3 separate regions of the Homo sapiens genome follow, and all the other regions are linked to region 1. The links come from fine-mapping of genetic effects on gene expression. A gene starts in region 1. Each other region holds a variant in brackets. All regions are shown on one strand. Distances are from middle to middle.

Region 1 (6,599 bases):
CGAGATCGCACCATTGCACTCCAGTCTGAGCGACAGAACGAGACTCTGCTTCAAAAATAATAATAATAAATAATAAATAAATAAATAAATGGAGCAGCTTATAGATGTCCTTCTACAATTGATACATATTTTTCTCTTTAGGATTATTTTCTTACAGTGTCTTCCTAAAATAGAATGACTGCTTTAAAGGTTGTGAACACATTTTAGAGAGCCTACCACTTATTGGGGTCTTAACTAAGGCTGCGTGCCCACGTGGGCAGAGGGGCACAGGGGCAGAGGGACAGAGGGCAGGCTTGCTCTCTGCCCCCAGGGCTCCACATTTCCCCCAGTCGTGGAGTCAGTGGTCTGTGGCTAGGCATTAAAAGAAAGGAAAGGCTCTTTCCAATGAGTATAAGCCATCTCTCCCCCGAAATGAATTGCTACTTTTACCGTGTTCCAAAATCCTGTGTGTATTTTGGTCTATTTCTAAACAGTGTCTTCTGTATTTCATATCTTTCAATTTCCATCATGACCATATACCCAATAACCAAAAGTTCTTTGAAAACATTTGATTTGCTGTAATATGCTATCAATATATATCACAATTTACCATCATTGCCTGATTTTTGAGCATTTGATTGTTTACCAACTTTTTAGTCTTTTTTAATTGAAAGTAATGTGACCTAAGCATCCTAATCAGATGTGGAACTGTGCAGTTATGCCTGGGCTTTGCAATTATCAACATGTTAGGCAGTGAGGACATTTGCAAGGTATGTTTTCTGCCCTTGAGGGATGTACAGTCTGTAGGACACAAATAGAAGCCTGGCATATGATAGCTGCTGGGATAGACAACCGTATAAGGGTTTCCTGTATCCAGGCTGGAGCAAGGAGAAACGTCATGTGGCTTATATATGGCAATAAATGAATAGACAAAAGGTTTTAATTTTTATGAAGTTCAGTGTATTTTTTTCTTTCATAGTTCATGGAATTTGCCTATTTAAGAAATCTTTTTTCCACAAACCAGATATTGATACTGATTATGAAATCTTTGCCTAACACAAAGTCACTAAGATTTTCTCCTATAATTTCTTCTAGAAGCTTCATAGTTTTGGTTCTTACATTTAGGTCTATGCTTTTTTTTTTTGAGACAGAGTCTCACTCTGCCGCCCAGGCTGGAGTGCAATGGCACAATCTCGGCTCACTGCAACCACTGACTCCTGGGTTCAAGCGATTCTCCTGCCTCAGCCTCCCGAGTAGCTGGGATTACAGGTGCCTGCCACCACGCCTGGCTAACTTTTGTATATTTTGTAGAGACAGGGTTTCACCATGTTGGCAAAGCTGGTCTTGAACTCCTGACCTCAGGTGATCCACCCGCCTTGGCCTCCCAAAGTGCTGGGATTACGGGCATGAGCCACCACGCCCAGCCATCCCCAGGATGTTTTTGCCAGGACCTCCCACCTTCTGAATCAGATGGTTCCTTTCAGTCCCAATCCTACTGGACCTCTGTAGTGCCCAACACTGTGGTCCATTACCTCTTTCTTCAGCTTCTCTCTTCCCCAGACTTTGTGACCCCATTGTGTCCCCATTGTCCTCCTAACTTTCAGATTGTCCTTCCCTGTTCTCTCACAGGCACTTTACCTTCTTCACATGACCACAGGAGGAACGACTAACACTAATTAATCATCAGTACTCCAGGTGCCTGCAGTTTCATGGTCAGCTGTGTTGGCAAAGAACTGTTCTGAAAGGAAATCTTTTTTGTTTTGTTTTTTTTGTTTGTTTTTTGGATCTTTTAGAAAAAGGTCTGCTTTCTCTGCAATAATTGTGTAGCAGTAATATTAAAAAGTGTCTCAAAAATAGACATATCATTGGAGTGGGTGAGTCTGGAGATTAGAGGAGAATTGCCATTTTGAAAAACCTAGCAGTTTGGCAGGTTTTCCTATTCATCTCAGCCTACTGAGATCTCCATGGTATCCTTTGAGTCAATTTCTTTTTTTACCATGCCCACTTATAAAAAATTATTGAGGTTCACATAACATAAAATTAATCATTTTAAAGTGAACAACTCAATGGCATTAATACATTTACAATGTCACCCAACCACTACCTCTAATTCCAAAACATTTCACTTACTTCAAGGTAATGAAACCCTTGTCCATTAAACTGTCTCCCAATTCTCCCCCTACCCTCAGCCTCTGGCAACTACTATTCTGAGTTATTTCACTATGGATGTATCTATTTTAGATCTTTCATATAAATGGAATCATACCATATGTAACTTTTCATATATTACTTCTTTTACTTAGCATAATGTTTTGGAGGTTTTTGAGTCACTTATTAACGCTGTATTTTGTTCTCACTTAATAGAAATCCCTGGTTGCCCCACCTGTCTGATGAAACTTTAGTAAATAATCAACAATAATGACAGACGTATTTAAACAGCAAGTTATATCTTAAGGATGGTGATGGACAATGTTAAACTAAAACTGGGACATTTCATCAAGTAAAAAACTACACAAAATCTCAAACCAAATTCCTCATTAGCAAGACGCTACCATAAGATGTCTGAAGAAAAAAGCAGGCAGAAGTGGGAAAAACTGACCACAGCCGAGGGCCAGCTGTGGAGGCCCTCAGACCTGGGAAGGGTAAACGGGGAAATCACATCCTCCCGTCTGTGTGCCCGGAGCACCTAAAACCTGGCTGAAAGAGTCCAGTCCAGCCTTACTGCAGTGATCAGGCAAGAAATGTAAACCCAGTGCTTGAAACCAGGCAGGTGCAGTCCAGACTCGCCCTCACTTCCCCACTGCCACTCTTAAAACCTTCTAGCCCTGACTTGTTTCGTTCTGTCATGTGGATTGAGTGTTTGTGTGGGTTTTATGAAGGTGGTATTTTTAGATGAGAAAAACGAAGATTATGGCGGCACACTTAACCACACAAACACAAAACGTCTGTAACAAATGCTATTTTATCTTCAAAGGAGAATTATATATAACCTTGAGGAGGGGATGAGGTTTATCTTCATTTTTTTCTGTTTCTCCTCCTCTCCTCCCTTTTTTGCATTTGATAATTGCTTAGAATAAAGGTATGGAAAGTAGATCCCAATTTCAGTTCCCCTTCACACGCTGTGCAAACGTGGACAAACAACCTCTGAACCTGTCACCTCTCAGTGGAAAAAGTGGTGATAACGTCCCACCTCAGAATTGATGCTCAAAATGAAGCAGTATTTGTGAAACGAAAATACACACGCTCGTGGTACGCCAGATCGGTGTTTACGTCCTCGTCAGTGAACGCGTCGATGTTTAATAAGAAGGGCAGCCAATCAACACTTTTCTTGTCTTTTTCTCGTCTGCCTTCCTCCAAGGACTGTGAGGGTCTCAAGATGTGTCCCATCTCGGTTGTTTGTCAACCTAGTCCTGCTATGTCGTGGGGACTGAGCAGGCCGACTCCTCCCCCATCGCACGTCCAGGATGAAGAGCGCTGTTTAGGTTTGAAACCTGCAGACTCAGTCCCAACCGAACTGGGCAGACACCAGACCGGCCCCGGCAACTGCAGTCCAGGCTCCGCCTCCCTACGCCCATTGGCTTATTCAATTCACGCAGGAACCAATGGGCGGAGACGGCAGCCGCGCCGTCTGACGGCTTAGCCGCGGTGCAGACTGCGGCGGCGGTGGTCTGAGGAAGTTCTATCTTGGCGCTAAAGCGGAGACGCATCCCCCGACCCGAGGCTACGATGAGCACACCGGCCGTGCCCCAGGACCTGCAGCTGCCCCCGAGTCAGAGGGCGCAGTCCGCATTCAAAGGTGAAGGCCGCGGTGGCGGTGGCGGTGGCGGTGGCGGTGGCGGTGGCGGGCGCGGGCCCGGCGGTCGGGGCTCGGGGCCGCGCTGGCGCGCTTCACCTCTCCCCCGCTCTGTGAGATCCCTGAACGCGGCGTCGGCCTCGCCCTGCCTCATTCTTGGCCTTGTGGAACGGATCATAAAAACAGGAACCGCTGCGTGGTGTTACTGTGCGGTCGCTGCTGGCTGGGATGGGCCCTCCTAAGAAGGAATCCGTTAGGCGAGGGGAAACGCGCGGGCCTCAGGCCGGGGTCGGTGTCGGAGACCCTGGGTCCGCTTGGGGGCGGGGCTGCACAGGTTCAGGGACCGACTGCGCCTGCGCTGGGTCCTCCGCCTCTTAGGTCCCTAGCGAATTTCTGCAGGGCTGGGGTCGCATCATGTGTTATTTCCAATTTCACAGCTTCTCCTTCGACTTTATGGAAACCGAGGGTTGGTTGGGTCTTCAAAACTAATATTGTTATTCCCTTATTCTACACACGGGAAAGCAGAAGAAAGTAATTCTCATCTAACCCAGTTCTGGTAAATTAGAACTTTCGAGTCTAGTGCCTCACTTCTACCATTTAGTTTCTTAAAGCTTGGCTAGCAGGAGCTGTATGTAGAAAATGATGTTCTCCAGATTTTTCACAGGGAGTAGAGAATGTGATTCTTATGCAGAGGGGTTTTGGGGACCTGTTGTGGTAACAGTCTCTTCTAAGGTGATTTCTCAAAGGCAATATTGAATTGGAGAATTTTCTGTTATATAGATGTGACCTCAGGTGGAACCAGCTTTGGAAGTAAACTCTTCATTTAGTCAACAAGATTTATTTGCCGTTATCGATGTTTTAACTAATATTGACTTGTAGCTCTTACCTTTGTTATCTAGAGCAAAGAAGACAAAAACTCAAGGAACATCTGTTGAGAAGAAAAACGCTTTTTGCATACAAGCAGGAAAATGAGATGTTATCCAGGTAAGGTCAAGTTTATTTCTTTTCACTTCTGTAAAATTGTATCAGATCTGTCCAATGAAAATGTAAAGTAAGCCATATCTGTAATTTTAAATTTTCTAGTAGCCACATTTAGAAAAACTGCTTACATATTATTTTACGTCTTTTTGTGGTACAACGTCTTTAAAATCTGGTGTCTATTTTACAGTTACAGGACATTTCCATTTGGTCTATCCACATTTCAAGCACTCAGTAGCCACATTGGCTAGTGGCTACTTTATTGGATGGTGCAGCATTAGATCATCGTTTTATTAATTTTTTTTTTTTTGAGACAGAGTCTCACTCTGTTGCCAGGTTGGAGTGCAGTAGCGTGATCTTGGCTCACTGCAGCCTCCACCTTCTGGGTTCAAGTGAATCTCCTGCCTCAGCTTCCCAAATACCTGGGACTGACTACAGGCAAGTGCCACCATTCCCTGCTAATTTTTGTATTTTAAACAGAGACCGGGTTTCACTATGTTGGCCGGGCTGGTCTTGGACTCCTGACCTTGAGATCCGCCCACCTCAGCCTCTGAAAGTGCTGTGATTACAAGGATGAGCCACCGCGCCCGGCCTAGATTATCGTTTTCTACGTAAATTAATTCACAGTCTAAGAGAAAAAAACAATTATAAAGCAAAGTATGTGCATAGACTAGATTATCAACTTACTGTTTACACCACACAAAGGTCAGTCTTTCTATTATTTAGCAAAGCTTTTTACTCAGTGTATGGGGGAGTTCATCAGGGAAGGGTTGGGTGGCCCTCCCAAATGCTTAGAGATTACTAGTTGTAGTCTCAACCCTCCACAGAAATATCTTTATTATTTTGTTAAAATATCTTAGATAGTACATAGCTGTAGCAAAAACAAAAACCCATGAAAGTAGATGAAGCAGAAAGGCAAAAGGTCCCCTCACTCTCTAGGGATAACCAGTAATAACATCCTTACAGGCTTAGGCTGGGTGCTGTGGCTTACACCTGTAATCCCAGCACTTTAGGAGGCTGAGGTGGGCAGATCACGAGGTCAGGAGATCAAGACCAGCCTGGCTAACACAGTGAAACCCCGTCTCTACTAAAAATACAAAAAATTAGCCAGGCATGGTGGTGGGTGCTTGTAATCCCAGCTACTGGGGAGGCTGAGGCAGGAGAATCGCTTGAACCTGGGAGATGGAGGTTGCAGTGAGCCGAGATCGTGCCATTGCACTCCAGCCTGGGTGACAGAGCGAGACTCCGTCTCAAAAAAAAAAAAAATTGTCTCAGGTAAACAAAATTGTATATACCACCCACACACATATTCAGAGAGTGGAAATGATAACGCAAATGGGATAAAAATTTTAACAATAGGTGGATCCTGGGTAAAGAGTGTACAGATATTCTTTGACCTGTTTATATTTTTGCAACTTTGTGTAAGTTTGGCATTCTAAAATTTTAAAAATAATTTCTAACTTTATATTAATAAGTTGCTTTAGTTTGGAATAAACAGTTTATCCTTCACAAATAAATCTTTTATTTCTTTGTTTAAGACAAAAAGGTGATCCTAGGTTTTTTATTTGAATAAGTAAATGAATGGTGATAACCGTATACTGAAATAGGAAGCCTGAAGGAGGAGCTGGGGAATTAGGAGTTCTGTTTTGACTATGTTTGAGGTACCAACCAGACATCCAAGCAGATATGCCAAATAATTGTGTGTCTGAAGTTCAGGGGAGGGGTTGGGGCTGGAAGCATAAACTCAGGAATTGATTAGTATACAGATGATATTTACTTAAAAACCTTAGGATGGAATGAAATTACTAGGGAATAAGTAGAGATAATATGGATTCAGACAGTGACTCTC
Region 2 (6,599 bases), 120 kb after region 1:
TAAGACAGAGGGATGCTGTCTGCCTCTCTCACATACTGAGGCTTCACTCGCTTTTATCAGTCGAATGTTGTCACAAGAGCTGTTTGCCTGCGTTGTCCTCCCAAGGATCTGGGGTGTCCTTCATAATTCCAGGGAGTTGTCGTTTTCTTTCTTGAATTAAAGTTCACAGAGTTGATCTTTATGTACTATCTTGCTATTTCCAAATGGCTGAGGCATGCTAAAAGCCTGTAATCTGCCGTCTTGGAAAAAAATCCTTGCATTCTTAAGAGAAATGGCACTTGGTATTGATACGTGGTATTTCTACACTGCTGAATTCACTTTGAAAAAATATATATATTTTTATATCTACATTTATATGTCAGACTGGTATAAAGTAATCGTCTACTGTATTTATGCAGTTTTGGAACCAGCTATTTTAGTGTTACTAAATGAGTTGGGAATTTTTCTTTCTTACTGTTACCCAAAGGAATTTATATAAGACATGAATTATTGCTTTCGAATAGATTTAGTAAAAACCTCATCTTGTTCTTTCGTGGAGAGGTAGTTGAGAAATATTTTTACCGTAAATGTAATTTATTTTCCACCTGTGGGGCAGAGGTTGCAGTGAGCTGAGATCGTGCCAGTGCACTGCAGCCTGGGTGACACAGCGAGACTGTCCCAAAAAAAAAGAAAGAAAATCAACTTAAAATGAACTCCTGGAATATTTCTGAGTGTATTTTTATACCAAGCATGTTCCTTGAACTAATTTTTCTTTTCTTTTCTAGGAAGAACCGGAACTATGGTTTGTGCCTGCCTGATTGCCAGTGAAATATTTTTAACTGCAGAGGTATGAAAGATGTTACTACAAACTTTGTCTTAGGATGACTGAGTTTGCTAGTTCTGAAACATCACTGGTAGGATGTTAAGATGATTATTTTAGTCATGGTGCTTAGTGAAATTGTAATTGGAGAAGCGGTTGTTAAAAAGTCTGTTTTTGATACTTCCTTGTTTAACATGCACTGGTTAGTAGCTGGCTTAAGAATCTCTTTGGGCCAGGACTAGAGTGAGGTCAATGAGGCGCAGAATTTAAGAGAATGCTAAAAATTGCAATAATTAAAATAAATGATTTTTCATGCAATATTTAAAAAATAAAAATTAATGCAAAAAAACCATGAGGTATACAATATTAACATTTTAAATAATGACAAGACCTGATGGGGCAGGATTAAGGTGAGGGGAGTAAAGCCATGTTACACAGATACAAAAAACATTCAGTAATCGCAATGGTTCCCTCACCTCACCTGGCCCTGCTGTTCTTCCTTCCTCATGAGAATAGTATCAAGCTTAATTAGATAAATTCTCCAAAGGGCCTTGGCCATCCTCACACCTCTTAGGTAGATAAAAGGCAACATTTCACAACTCAAAGCCTCTCCTGCATGTAAATACCTCTGCTTAGTCAACACATGTGGAGTCTGTGGCCTCTAGAAATTTCTGATAAGACAAGGTGGGATGTTTCCACCTACAGCAGTGTTCTCAGTCATTTTTCTTTGCCATTTTCTTGCTGAGATGCTACCATTTCCAGCAGCTCCGCTTGAGTTGTTTGGCCTACAGTCTAGGGAAGAAGTGGTGGTTCTGCACAATGCCCAGCACTCTAATTCCACCACCTTTGGTTTTTCTAATTTGAGACACACAGATTTTGAAAATGGATGTTCTAGGATGGTGTTTTTCAAGCTATGGATCATGATGTATCAGTGAGTTGTAAAATAAAGTTACTGGGTTGTGACTAACATCTCTTAAAAATAAAATGGAATCGGCCAGGTGCGGTGGCTGATGCCTGTAATCCCAGCACTTCAGGAGGCTGAGGCGGATGGATCACCTGAGGTCAGGAGTTTGAGACCAGCCTGACCAACATGGAGAAACCCTGTCTCTACTAAAAATACAAAATTAGCTGGGCATTGTGGTGCATGCCTGTAATCCCAGCTACTTGAGAGGCTGAGGCAGAAGAATCGCTTGAACCCAGGAGGTGGAGGTTGTGGTGAGCTGAGACCGGGCCATAGCACTCCAGCCTGGGCAGTAAGAGTGAAACTCCGTCTCAAAAAAAAAAAACAAAAAAAAACTAAAGCTAAAACTAAATAAAATGGAATAGAGCAGAATAGAAAATCTGAAAAGGTTTAAGTATTGGTGTGTGTGTGTGTGTACTTCTCCGAGGTTTATTAATGTGGATTGCAACTTAAAAAATGAAAAGTTTGAAAGCCACTGATACAGAGCCCTAGACTGAAAACCAGAGACTTGTATTTCAGGCCTGTGCTGCTTCTAACTGGCTGCAGCATCTCCATGGCAGATTGTGTAGTTTTCTTTTGGTCTCAGTCTTCTCATTTGTAAGATGGAAAGAAGGGTTGGACCAGATGATTTCTAAGGTCTTTCCAGCTCTAAACTTTTATGTCTTTACGAAACCTTGAATGAGAGAAGTCTTTGATGTGACTTTGTTAATTTTGGTAATTTGGGTAGCCTTTGCCAAAAGACCACTGC[G/A]GCTAGGCGCGGTGGCTCATGCTTGTAATCTCAGCACTTTGGGAGGCTAAGGCAGGCGGATCTCTTGAGTCAGGAGTTCGAGACCAGCCTGGCCAACATGGCAAAGCCCCCATCTCTACTAAAAATACAAAAAATTAGCCAGGTGTGGTGGTACACGCCTGTAGTCTCAGCTACTCAGGATGCTGAGGCAAGATAATCGCTTGAACTCGCGAGGCAGAGGTTGCAGTGAGGTGAGATTCTGCCACTGCACTCCAGTGTGCGTGACAGAGCGAGACTCCATAAAAAAAAAAAAAATCACTGACTTTAGGAAAGAAGGTGGTTTTAGAAAGACTAAGGTACCTAATATAGAAAAGGAAAGAGTGCAGATGAACCATGGTTCCTTTTTTGTAGGAAAGATTGTACTATTTTGGAGAACGGCGAACAGATAAAACCAATGGCACTAAATATCAGGGAGTAGAAACTCCTTCTCAGGTAAGTTTTCGTTTTAAGAAAGGGAGCTTTTGTAGGGGAGTGGGTTAAGATTGCCATCTGTTATTTGGTTTCATTTTAGACTCTTCTCCTTTGGTGATCAGTCAGCAGCATTAGGGCACCCTGCGACAGGCCTTGGTCCCTCCCTGATGCTAAGGGTCATGCTTCAGGTGCCACCCACACGTTGGGGGGTCTGGCTTCTCCTCAGAGCATCCTGCTTTCTATTCTATACTGGTTATTGTTTACGGAGCTCAGGAGTTGATTATTTTCCCAAAGCAGGAAAGTCCAATACCTAAGGCTCCAGGACCCTGAAGTTTATCTAAAATCACCAGCCTTTGATTTCAATGTAAAAAAGATCTAAGTCTTTCACAGATCCTTATTAGGGCAATTCAACCCTTGCAGAACATCACAAAGACTGTTTTTGGGTGACTCCCGTGTGTGTGTGTGTGTGTGTGTGTGTGTGTGTGTGTGTGTGTGTGGTGGGGGAGGTGTATTTTAAAAGAGAAAGAAAAGGGGAAATAAACTTTTCAAAAACCCTTTTATATACCAGACAGTACTGCACTTTTACATATCTCATTGAAAACCCATAACACCTATATGAAACATATGCTGTTACTCTGTTTTTTCTTTTAAAAATAATTTCGTTATGGAAAACTTTAATCATATACAAAAGTCCAGAGAATCATACAATATATCTCCATGTAGTCATCACTTCGCTGCAACAATCATTTCAGCCTGCAACTGGCCACGTTTCATCCATACTTTTCCCACTCCACTCACACCCCCAACCCCACTCTCCACTCTTGCTTTCCCCAAACCTGGATTATTTGGAAGGAAATTTCAGTCATCAGATCATTTTATCCCACAAGTATTTTAGTATGACATCTAAGTACTCTTAAAACAACAACAAAAAACCCTTAATAACTTTTATCATATCTGAAATATTACACCTTAAAAATCCTTAATATCAAATTTCTAGTCCATGTTTGTTTCCAAAATTGTCTTAAAATCTTTGAAAATTTAGTTTGTTTCAGTCAGAATTCAAACAACATCCACACATTTCATTTGGTCGCTATGTCTCCTAAGTCTCTTTTAGTTCATAGATTTCTTGCCATTTTTTATTGCTTGTAATTTGTTTACTGCAGAAACCAGAATGTTTATCGTATAGCATTTACAACATTCTAGACTTTGCTGAACCATTCTAAGAGTTTTACATTCACTATCTCATTTAATATTCTCAGTAACTCTATGAGTAGGCACTACTATGATTCTCATCTTATAAATTAGAAAATTGAGGTTCAGAGAAATTAACTTTTGAACCAAGGACTGAAATCTAGATGTCAGACTCTGAAGCCCATGCTGTGCACAGCTTCTCATTTATATTGCCTTTTCTATATTGCCCCTCAAACCGAAGTGAGAGTGGGTTGGGAATTCTCAAATAGATTTGGATGTGGCTGTAAATGAGTTTTTCTTTAGGTGGTGGGAACTGAATAAGTACTCTTGGCCCTGTTATAAGAACACTAACTACTGTCCCCGTTTAGTTTGGGCAAAAGAACTCAGCCTTATCCACTGATACTTTTCTCCCACACCCAAGCCAAAAACAAAACCAGACAAAGAACAGTCATAGACCCTAAGCGAAAAGGAATGTGTGGATTTACTGAAGTGCAGCCCTACTCATGCCATTTCCATGCTCAAAATCCAGAGTATGTCCCCACTGCCAGTAGCAATAAACTAAATGTTTCAACCTGGCACTCAAGATCCACAGTTTGACTTTTCCAACCTTTTCTTCCACTATGTGCATGCACACATCCCACACTCTAACACATTTAGACTGTGTGCTGTTTCCCAGCCCATGGACACTTGATTCCCTCGTGCCATTTCTCATGCCCCTTTTCCTAGAGTCCCTTTCCCTTCCCAGCCTGAAGTAGTCTCTTGCTTTTTCAGTTCCTAAAGCCCTTTGTGTTTCTCTTAGGGATGATATCACTTTGCATTGTTCTCTAGCTATTTGAAGTGGTGACTTCTGTTTCCCCTTTAAAGGCAAGGCCCATGGCTTACCCATCTTTCCACCCTTTCCTCATAATATCTTCTTTGTTTGTAGTGAGTACCTCCTATGGGTTGGTTGTATGAATTTCTACTACCAGTCCATGTTGTTTTAAGTTGTAGTAGAAAGAAGCATGGGAGCAAAAGCAGCTTGAGGGCCCTGGCAGGTTACAGCCTTTAGGGGAAGGTGGAGAATCTGGTGGCAGGAGCCAAGGAGATGTTAGATAGAGCTCCTTCAGCAACTCACCCCACACGTCTCCCCATCCCCATCTCTTCTGTAGTCATGCATAGTTTCCCGAACTTTAGTCCAGAACTAGCACACCAAAGGCTGCAACTGAATCTCTTCTGATTGACTGAGAAGGCAACACAGGGTCTCAGCTGCACATTTGAGAGATGTGTTGGCAAGACCTCAGGACAGAGTGCCCTCTGTGTCTGGTGGTGATTCTCGGATACCATCACATTCTGATCCTGCATTGTGGGCCATTCTACTGACTACATCTACTCCTAAGTTAAGAACTTTCATGAGCCTTCCTCATGACTGGCCCTTTCTAAAGGAAAGTATGGCAGTTTGTTACTTCTATGAACATTTCTCAATGGGTAAGATAGAGTCCATGAACTTATGAGTACTTCTTCTTTTTTTTTTTTTTGGAGACAGAATCTGTCTGTCACCCAGACTGGAGTGCAGTGGTGCAGTCTCAGCTCACTGCAACCTCGACCTCCTGGGTTCAAGCAATTCTCCTGCCTCAGACTCCCAAGTAGCTGGGATTACAGGTGCCCACCACCACGCATGGCTAATTTTTGTAGCTTTAGTAGAGACGGGGTTTCACCCTGTTGGCCAGGCTGGTCTCGAACCCCTGACCTCAAGTGATCTGCCCACCTCGGCCTCCCAAAGTGCTGAGATTACAGGTGTGAGCCACCAGCGCAGCCAACTTTTGAGTTCTGAACCAGTTGATTCAGTACCAGAGCTCTTCAACTCCTTGAAGATAGATTCAAGGAGAGCCACTGTGAACAGCTTGCCCTAGGAAAAGGACAAGGCTAAGGGAATTCCGGGGCTTCCTTGTGAAAACAGAATTGGGGAAATGGAAAGTGAAGAAATCCTAGCTGTCAGGAACAAGAGAAGAATGACAGGAAACCTGCTACTGAGATATGGAGGTATTCCTCTTGAGTTTTCACATATGGCATTCTCTCATGCCCAGGAACCTGCTCTTCACTAAACCACACACCTTCCTCTAACTCAGTCACAACTAAGCTTCTATCTGCACACTGCTAATGCTGTAACTGTTTTGTTGTTGGTTCTGATTAGTTGCCCTCTCAACCATAAGCAGCCTGTCAACAAGACCTGGCTCCATCCTTGTCACTTCCCCATAGCACTTAATTCAGTATTTTTTCCCCAAGGTAGATAGTTGTGAGGCAGCATCCCTCAAAATATCTAGTAACATAATGGCATCCAGTAAATGTTTCCTTAATTATTTACTGCCCTTAACCTTTATGCAAAAAAAAAAAAAAAAAAAAGGGAAAACTGAAAATAGGAATGCTGACTTCAGGCTTTTCATCTCCACTTAAAGTAAGGCTTCTGTTGCTTT
Region 3 (6,599 bases), 280 kb after region 1:
GGTCAGAAAACATATGCTATAATAGGAGAATTTGCTCATGGTCATTTTCTGGATTAAATAGGAAATTGGAATTGAGAAAAGTATGCAAATAGATCCCACCTGTTGTTGATGAGATTATTAGGTCATTAAAATTTCCCTCTTCTTCAGAAATTTAAATTTCAAATCTTGCAACATTCTTGGATTGTTTTGAGCATTTTATTCATCACGTTACAGAAATCCGCTTGAAAAGAAATAGCTCCTTCAAGTCTTTCTGCCAAGACTTTTATATAATTCCAAGAAGAACCTGCTCTTTTCAATGCTATGGTATTGTGGTTTTTTTCTTCCAGTTTTAAAAATCAAGTTTTATTTTGATTTCTAGGGACATACCTTTAATTTCCTAGAAGTAAAAAATGTTTTTCAAAACAGCTAAATCCTTATGTACATGAATTCAGTAAAGGTGGTTCTTTTTGTTTTTGGTATTTTACAACTGAAGTGTTGTTTTTTTCTTTTGCAAATATGAAGGACAAAGTCTGGTCCTTTCTCAGAGAGAATATGCTACATGTAGTGGATTAGTGGCACTACAACTGCTATAAAGAACAGTTACCATTTGGATGTGTGTGAGAAACGCTGCTCCTCCTTGAATTAGAAAAGTCCCGCAGGCTTGCCTGGTTAAATTCTCTAAATGCATGAAATATACTTACATTCTGGAAATCATTAACTGCAATTGCTTCTTCAGCTCCACTTCCCATTTTAAAGGTCTCCAAGTTGTTCCCAGCGTCTATTTCCATTGACCCATCTTGTAATTTCCCATTGATACTCATGGTGTAATGGACATTGTAAATCTGAAAGTGAGCATAAGAGTTAGTGATGCTTTCTTTTTTGAGCAATTCAGGGCTTATCTTTAGAAGGGCAGTGTATGAGGTAGTGTCCATATGTTTCAGAGATACATGAGATAGTCCTTAATAATAATACATTTATATATGATGACTTCATTCATACAACAATCAGTTAATGCAATGATTTCCTTAAAAATACCTTAAGAGTAAAGACTTTGGTTGCCTCTGACACCTATTCCAATAGCTCCATAATTTGCAATGCTGGCTGTACTTTAGAAGCATCTGGGTAGACTCTCTGGGTACCATGCCTGGGTTTCACCCTGGACAAATCAAATCAGAAGCTGTGGGAAGGGCGCTTGGGCATAGGTCTTTCTTTTTCTAAAGCTCAATTCTATTATGCATCTGGGTTGAGCACTATTGATGGATAAATGGAAATTGAGGAGGCAGAAGGTTAATTGGGCTCCCAGCTGAACACGTCTGCAGTGGCACCTCAGTTTCACAAGTTGTTTTCATCCTTTGGTCAAGATTAGGCATGCAGTGTCTCAGGTATATGGTATATGGTATTAGGTATATGGAAAGGACTGCAGACAGGACCAGGGTATGCTTGATATAGAGCAGCATGTGTGGAGAGGAAGGCCAATGTGCATGTTTGTTTCAGCTCAAAATGGTAGTACTCCCTGAACGATTCTATGGGGCAGGCCCATGGTGCTGTAGGGCATTTTGTTATGAGATGTGTGGGGAGTGTGGAAGAGGGGAAGGGACCTGGCACTGCAGAAGAGCATCGGTCCAGTAATCAGGAAAACAGGTGGCCACACCACTCATCTCTGGATCTTGTGAGTTGCCACGAGTGTATAATGAAGTTGGACCTCATAGGTGGCTTTCATCTATGTCCTTAGAACTGTTGGGATCTCCCGGGCATGGCCTAGAGGTGAGGATGGCACTGTGGCACTCTGTTCTCTCCTGTCCATCCATAGTCTAACCAGAGTGGCTCTGCTTTTTCTGTCTTATGTGTTGCATTTCTGAGTAACATTTTGTTAGAAAGACAAATTTCAATACTTAAAACATTTCTTTTTTAAAGTTTGCCACTAATTAGCTGACCTAAAGGGCTCAGACACCTGATTACTGCACTGGTTTCAAAATAACTCAGACGCTGCTCCTGCTCAGTGTGCTGCTGTCCTGGTAGACCTTTCTGTGTGGCAGAGCTAGGAGGTGGGTTTCTTTTTTTTTTGGATTTAGATGCATAGGTATATCTATATATCTTACATATGATATATTACATATCATGTATAAATTATAGATTATATATACACATATATATAAATCTTTAAAGTGGAGGAATGAGAACTGATGAAAAACTGTTGCTACTTAATATCAGGTCAGCCAGTCAAAACTGCAAATAGCTCAGATCCAATTCAAGTCTGATTTTTCTTCCTCATTATGAAGAGTGACTGCTACATGCACAAACACTGGAAAAAGGATCTGTTATTGTTGGATCCATTTCTTGAAGAAAACTCATTATTACAAGACCCACAGTGCACTATTTTATTATCAGCAGAGATACAGAAATGGCTTTGCTATCCAGCACCCTTTTAGGAACAGCATTCATTCAGCAGGACAGAAAATACCAGTGTCCTTTTTCAGCTCAACCATCCCTCATTGCCCCTCCTTCCCTGTCTCTTTCTGAAGAACTTAGATGTCTGCAATTTACTGTCTCCTAGGCTTCCCTGATCACAAGAACCACTCCTGGGGGTTCTGATTTAGTGGAGCTAGAGCACAGCCCACCAGTCTCTTTTCCCCTTTCCCCTCAGGTGGCCCTTATGATCAGCCAGGTTTGGGAAACCTGTTTTCTTTGGCTGAGACGGGACTCCTGCAGGTGAAGTTTGGAAAGAAGGCTCTGTTCTGTCCGGTGCTCTCTGAGCAGCCAGTGTTCATATGGGTCAGTGATGACTGTCAGAAGGAGCCTGGCAGGAAACACCCATGTGAGTGTCTTCCACTCATATGACAAGAGGTTCTGT[GT/G]TTTTTTTTAAGAACATTGCACATAAGCTTTTACTAGTAAAGCAATGCAACATTTAAGAACATAACCATTTCTAAATTCTTAGCAGTTCTTAAGGAGATAAGGTTGTCACACTAGAAGAGTGGCCTGTGGTTTGAATTTCACATTCCTCCACCACTACCCCTGGCTGTCTTCTCCCCAGAAAGCCTCCCTAACTAGGTGCAGGGATAGCCAATCTTTTGGCTTCCCTGGGCCACAATGGAAGAAGAATTGTCTTGGACCACACATAAAATACACTAACACTAACGATAGCTGATGAATTTTTAAAAAAAATCTAAAAAAAAAAAAAAATCTCATAATGTTTTAAGAAAGTTTACGAATTTGTGTTGGGTTGTATTCAAAACCGCCCTGGGCCGCATGCAGGACCACAGATTGGACAAGCTTGACGTAGGGCATCTTGGTTGTGCAGCTGCGGCCCACCTTTTTTTTTTTTTTTTTTTTGAGATGGAGTCTTGCTCTGTCACCCAAGCTGGGGTGCAGTGGCACAATCTCGACTCACTGCAACCTCCGCCTCCCAGGTTCAAGCCATTCTCCTGCCTCAGCCTCCCAGGGAGCTGGGACTACAGGCATGCGCCACCACGCCCAGCTAATTTTTTTTTTTTTTTGAGACGGAGTCTTGCTCTGTCGCCCAGGCTGGAGTGCAGTGGCACAATCTCCACTCACTGCAAGCTCCGCCTCCTGGGTTCACACCATTCTCCTGCCTCAGCCTCCCAGGTAGCTGGGACTGCAGGTGCCCGCCACCAGGCCCAGCTAATTTTTTTGTATTTTTAGTAGAGACAGGGTTTCACTGTGTTAGCCAGGATGGTCTCCATCTCCTGACCTCGTGAGCCGCCCGCCTCGGCCTCCCGAAGTGCTGGGATTACAGGCGTGAGCCACCGCGCCCGGCCTTTATTTGCATTTTTAGTAGAGATGGGATTTCACCATGCTGGCCAGGCTGGTCTTGAACTCCTGACCTCAAGTGATCCTCCTGCCTTGGCCTCCCAAAGTGCTGGGATTACAGACGTGAGCCACCACGCCTGGCCTGCAGCCCACCTTTTATGTGCACTGCACCATCTGCATGGGGACAGCAGTGAAGCTGTCCCCCTCCTGAAGCTACTAGGGGAGGATGTGGGGGGAGGAGGCAGTCCAGTTTCTAACATACTAGACTCTGAGCTGGGGACGAGGCTGGGCTGTTGGAGCAGCAATTACCTTATCTGCTCTAAGTCCGTGGAGCTGTGGACACCCAAGGCTATTTTTATCCAAACAAGATGAAATTTATTATTTGCCAAAATTCTGCTCAATATGGTGCCTTTTACAGCCAAGGATATTTGCTAATGAGTTTTTAATAAGGCCTATGTTCTATAAGATTAATTACATAATGTTTGGGAAAATGTCTAGAAAAATTAGTCTGAGAGGAAAGGCCCCAAGCAATGATCTCCTTCCCTCATCTCACAGGGTGGGGTTGTCAGTTATCTCATATTGGTGGAAATTTCCCATATTTCAATGCCTTGTTCCATTTACAATAATGTGGATGAAAAATGGCCTCAATATTGGAGCCCAGTTCAGTTGTCCCCTGATTATTATTACTCCAGTGCTTCATAGTCCTCCAGCTAAATTTCAGTAAACCTGTCCTAAGGGGATTTACCCACATGAAAAGGATAGGAGGTGAATTACAGCTGGTTCTCCTCTATAAACCAATATAGAGGAGCCGAGGCACAGATAATCCCCAAAGAGTGGATAATCCATTTGGTTTGACAAGTCTTTCTGTTTGACAAAGACTTACCTTTTTTGATTACGTTTTGTCTGAGCTATTTAGATTTGTATTCAGGCAAAGCAGACCTGTGCATGTGCTATGCCTAGGTGGTGCAAAAATTACTCTATTTAGTATTTTGTGATTTGTTTTTCATACTTAAGTCATATGGATCAGGGAGAAAAAAACTATCATGATTTTCTTCATTCTCCTGTCTGTATAGGATATAGCAATAATTTTGATTGTTGACAATAAAATGTGATTCACTATTCCTCTGAATTCTTAGCATTTAATACTGCTCTCCTGAACCAGACAACCAACCATCTTGCAGTAAAGTAAAATATATGAAAAAAGGGAGCTGTGCTTATTCAGTATGATTGTTTAATCTCTCTTTTTAGAAGCCTGTCAGTTAGTGATGTTTACCTTGAATAATTAAATGACAAATGGTATTCATTTTAAAATATATCATGTCCAGAATCTTTACCAAAAAAAAGCATAGCTATTGTTATCCCCCATTGACCTATACCATTGAGGCTTTGTTATTTAAAAGATAGCATTTACATTCTAAAACCACAGAATTTCCCAAAGAGATGACAATCTAAACCCTGCTATTAATGGAGATGTAGATATTGAAATCATTCTCTTATTCACATTTGCTGTTTCAAACATGAGCATCTGGCCCAGCTTCTATATTTAAAATACAAATACATTAAGGCACTTTTCAAATACCCACAAAATACAGTGCAATTCTGATCTTACAAATCGATGCTTGTAAATTTGATATAGTCTCTAAAACAGACTCGGTGCTAAATGGCATGCTTATCTACATTAGACATTTGAGTTAAAAATACAAATTATGCAGTGACTGCAGAAGACGTGATGTGTAAAATGGTTGAATTGCTTTCAGCACCATTTTCTGTAAGTACTGGAATTCGTTCATGCTTTGCATTTCATGGTAGGAGAGAGGAAAAAACAGCAATCACCAATCCTCTGAGGATAGTGATTATGAAAGAGCCCTTTGTGTGTGCCCTGGAGATGGAATTCTTTTCCATTAGTTGAAATAAGCTTATACCAGACCTGGCAGTGGTCATCAAGATAAAATGCCCCCTTTTACATAGGTGAACACTTTCAGAGTATTTAGAGAACACACTGGAGCTCTGCCCAGTCAACTTAGAAACAGTCTTTATACTCCTCGAGAGCCGTGGAGCTTTAAAATAAATAGTTGCATACAAAGAAAGTAGGACAGCAGTTAGTAAAACACCTACTATTAAACCACATGTGATGACTAGGCCAGAATTAATTGTTAAAGAGATTTTCCACCTTTAAGGAAGTTAGACGTTTTGTTTGTTTGTTTGTTTTTTGTTTTTGTTTTCCAGAGAGAGAAGGGAATGTTCATGGCTAGGTCACAAAAAAACCTTCTGAAAGGCAAAAATTCCTTCCCAATGGGTCTGAATATGGGTCTGAATATTCCTCCACTATCTTTGTCCTGGATTTTAAACCCACAGCCTTTCTTAGCAGGGACAGGCCTTAGAGATCGTCCAGTTCCATTTTTTCCCTTCAGGACGAGTACACTGAGGCCAAAAGGTGACGTGCCTTCCCCACGGTCGCGCCACTGCTTAGTGGGAGATGAGCCGAGAACGGCCTTTCTCGGACCGTCCACTACATTCTCCCCTACTCTACGCTTCAATCTTCTCCCGTGAAACCTTCACTTGCTTTTCTACAACGTTGACCTAAGGCGGAAAGCCGCGTGCCAGAGTGGGATGGGAGAGGGGAGCTCACGCTGGGCCCGAGGGGCCCGCCGGCAGCCGCGCGCCCCTCGCCGGCCCGCGCTCGGGCTCCCCCTAGGGGCACCATGGGCGACACGGGGGTCCCCGCGCGCCGCCCTCTGGACTTACGTGACTGTCGCTCCCCTTCCAGAAGTAGAAGGCCCCGATGGCCCCAAAGAGCAGCAGCACAGCTCCCGAAATGAGGACCACGGCTCCCACCTTGAGCAGCCGCGCGG

The links. PIP is the estimated chance that this variant, and not a neighbour inherited with it, causes the effect.
Region 2: its variant is fine-mapped to the expression of CKAP2-DT in thyroid (GTEx, PIP 0.92).
Region 3: its variant is fine-mapped to the expression of CKAP2-DT in skeletal muscle (FUSION, PIP 0.95).

What each region holds. Positions count from the first base shown.
Region 1 is chr13:52,451,852-52,458,450 of GRCh38, forward strand. It overlaps CKAP2-DT (CKAP2 divergent transcript), which reads right to left and starts at 3,495. Exons shown (of 1, transcript NR_185890.1): 1 at 2,924-3,495. CKAP2 (cytoskeleton associated protein 2) reads left to right here and starts at 3,627. Exons shown (of 9, transcript NM_018204.5): 1 at 3,627-3,775; 2 at 4,672-4,756. The coding sequence starts at 3,706. RefSeq lists enhancers at 2,778-2,957, 3,248-3,327.
Region 2 is chr13:52,570,468-52,577,066 of GRCh38, forward strand. All of the region lies in intron 2 of LINC00345 (long intergenic non-protein coding RNA 345), which reads right to left. It also overlaps the pseudogene TPTE2P3. Among named protein-coding and RNA genes, the nearest start is that of LINC00345, 27 kb to the right of the region's middle. The variant G/A (reference allele first, on the strand shown) is at 2,509.
Region 3 is chr13:52,732,539-52,739,137 of GRCh38, forward strand. It overlaps CNMD (chondromodulin), which reads right to left. Exons shown (of 7, transcript NM_007015.3): 2 at 6,493-6,599; 3 at 681-821. Among named protein-coding and RNA genes, the nearest start is that of CNMD, 4.0 kb to the right of the region's middle. RefSeq lists an enhancer at 4,852-5,353. The variant GT/G (reference allele first, on the strand shown) is at 2,831.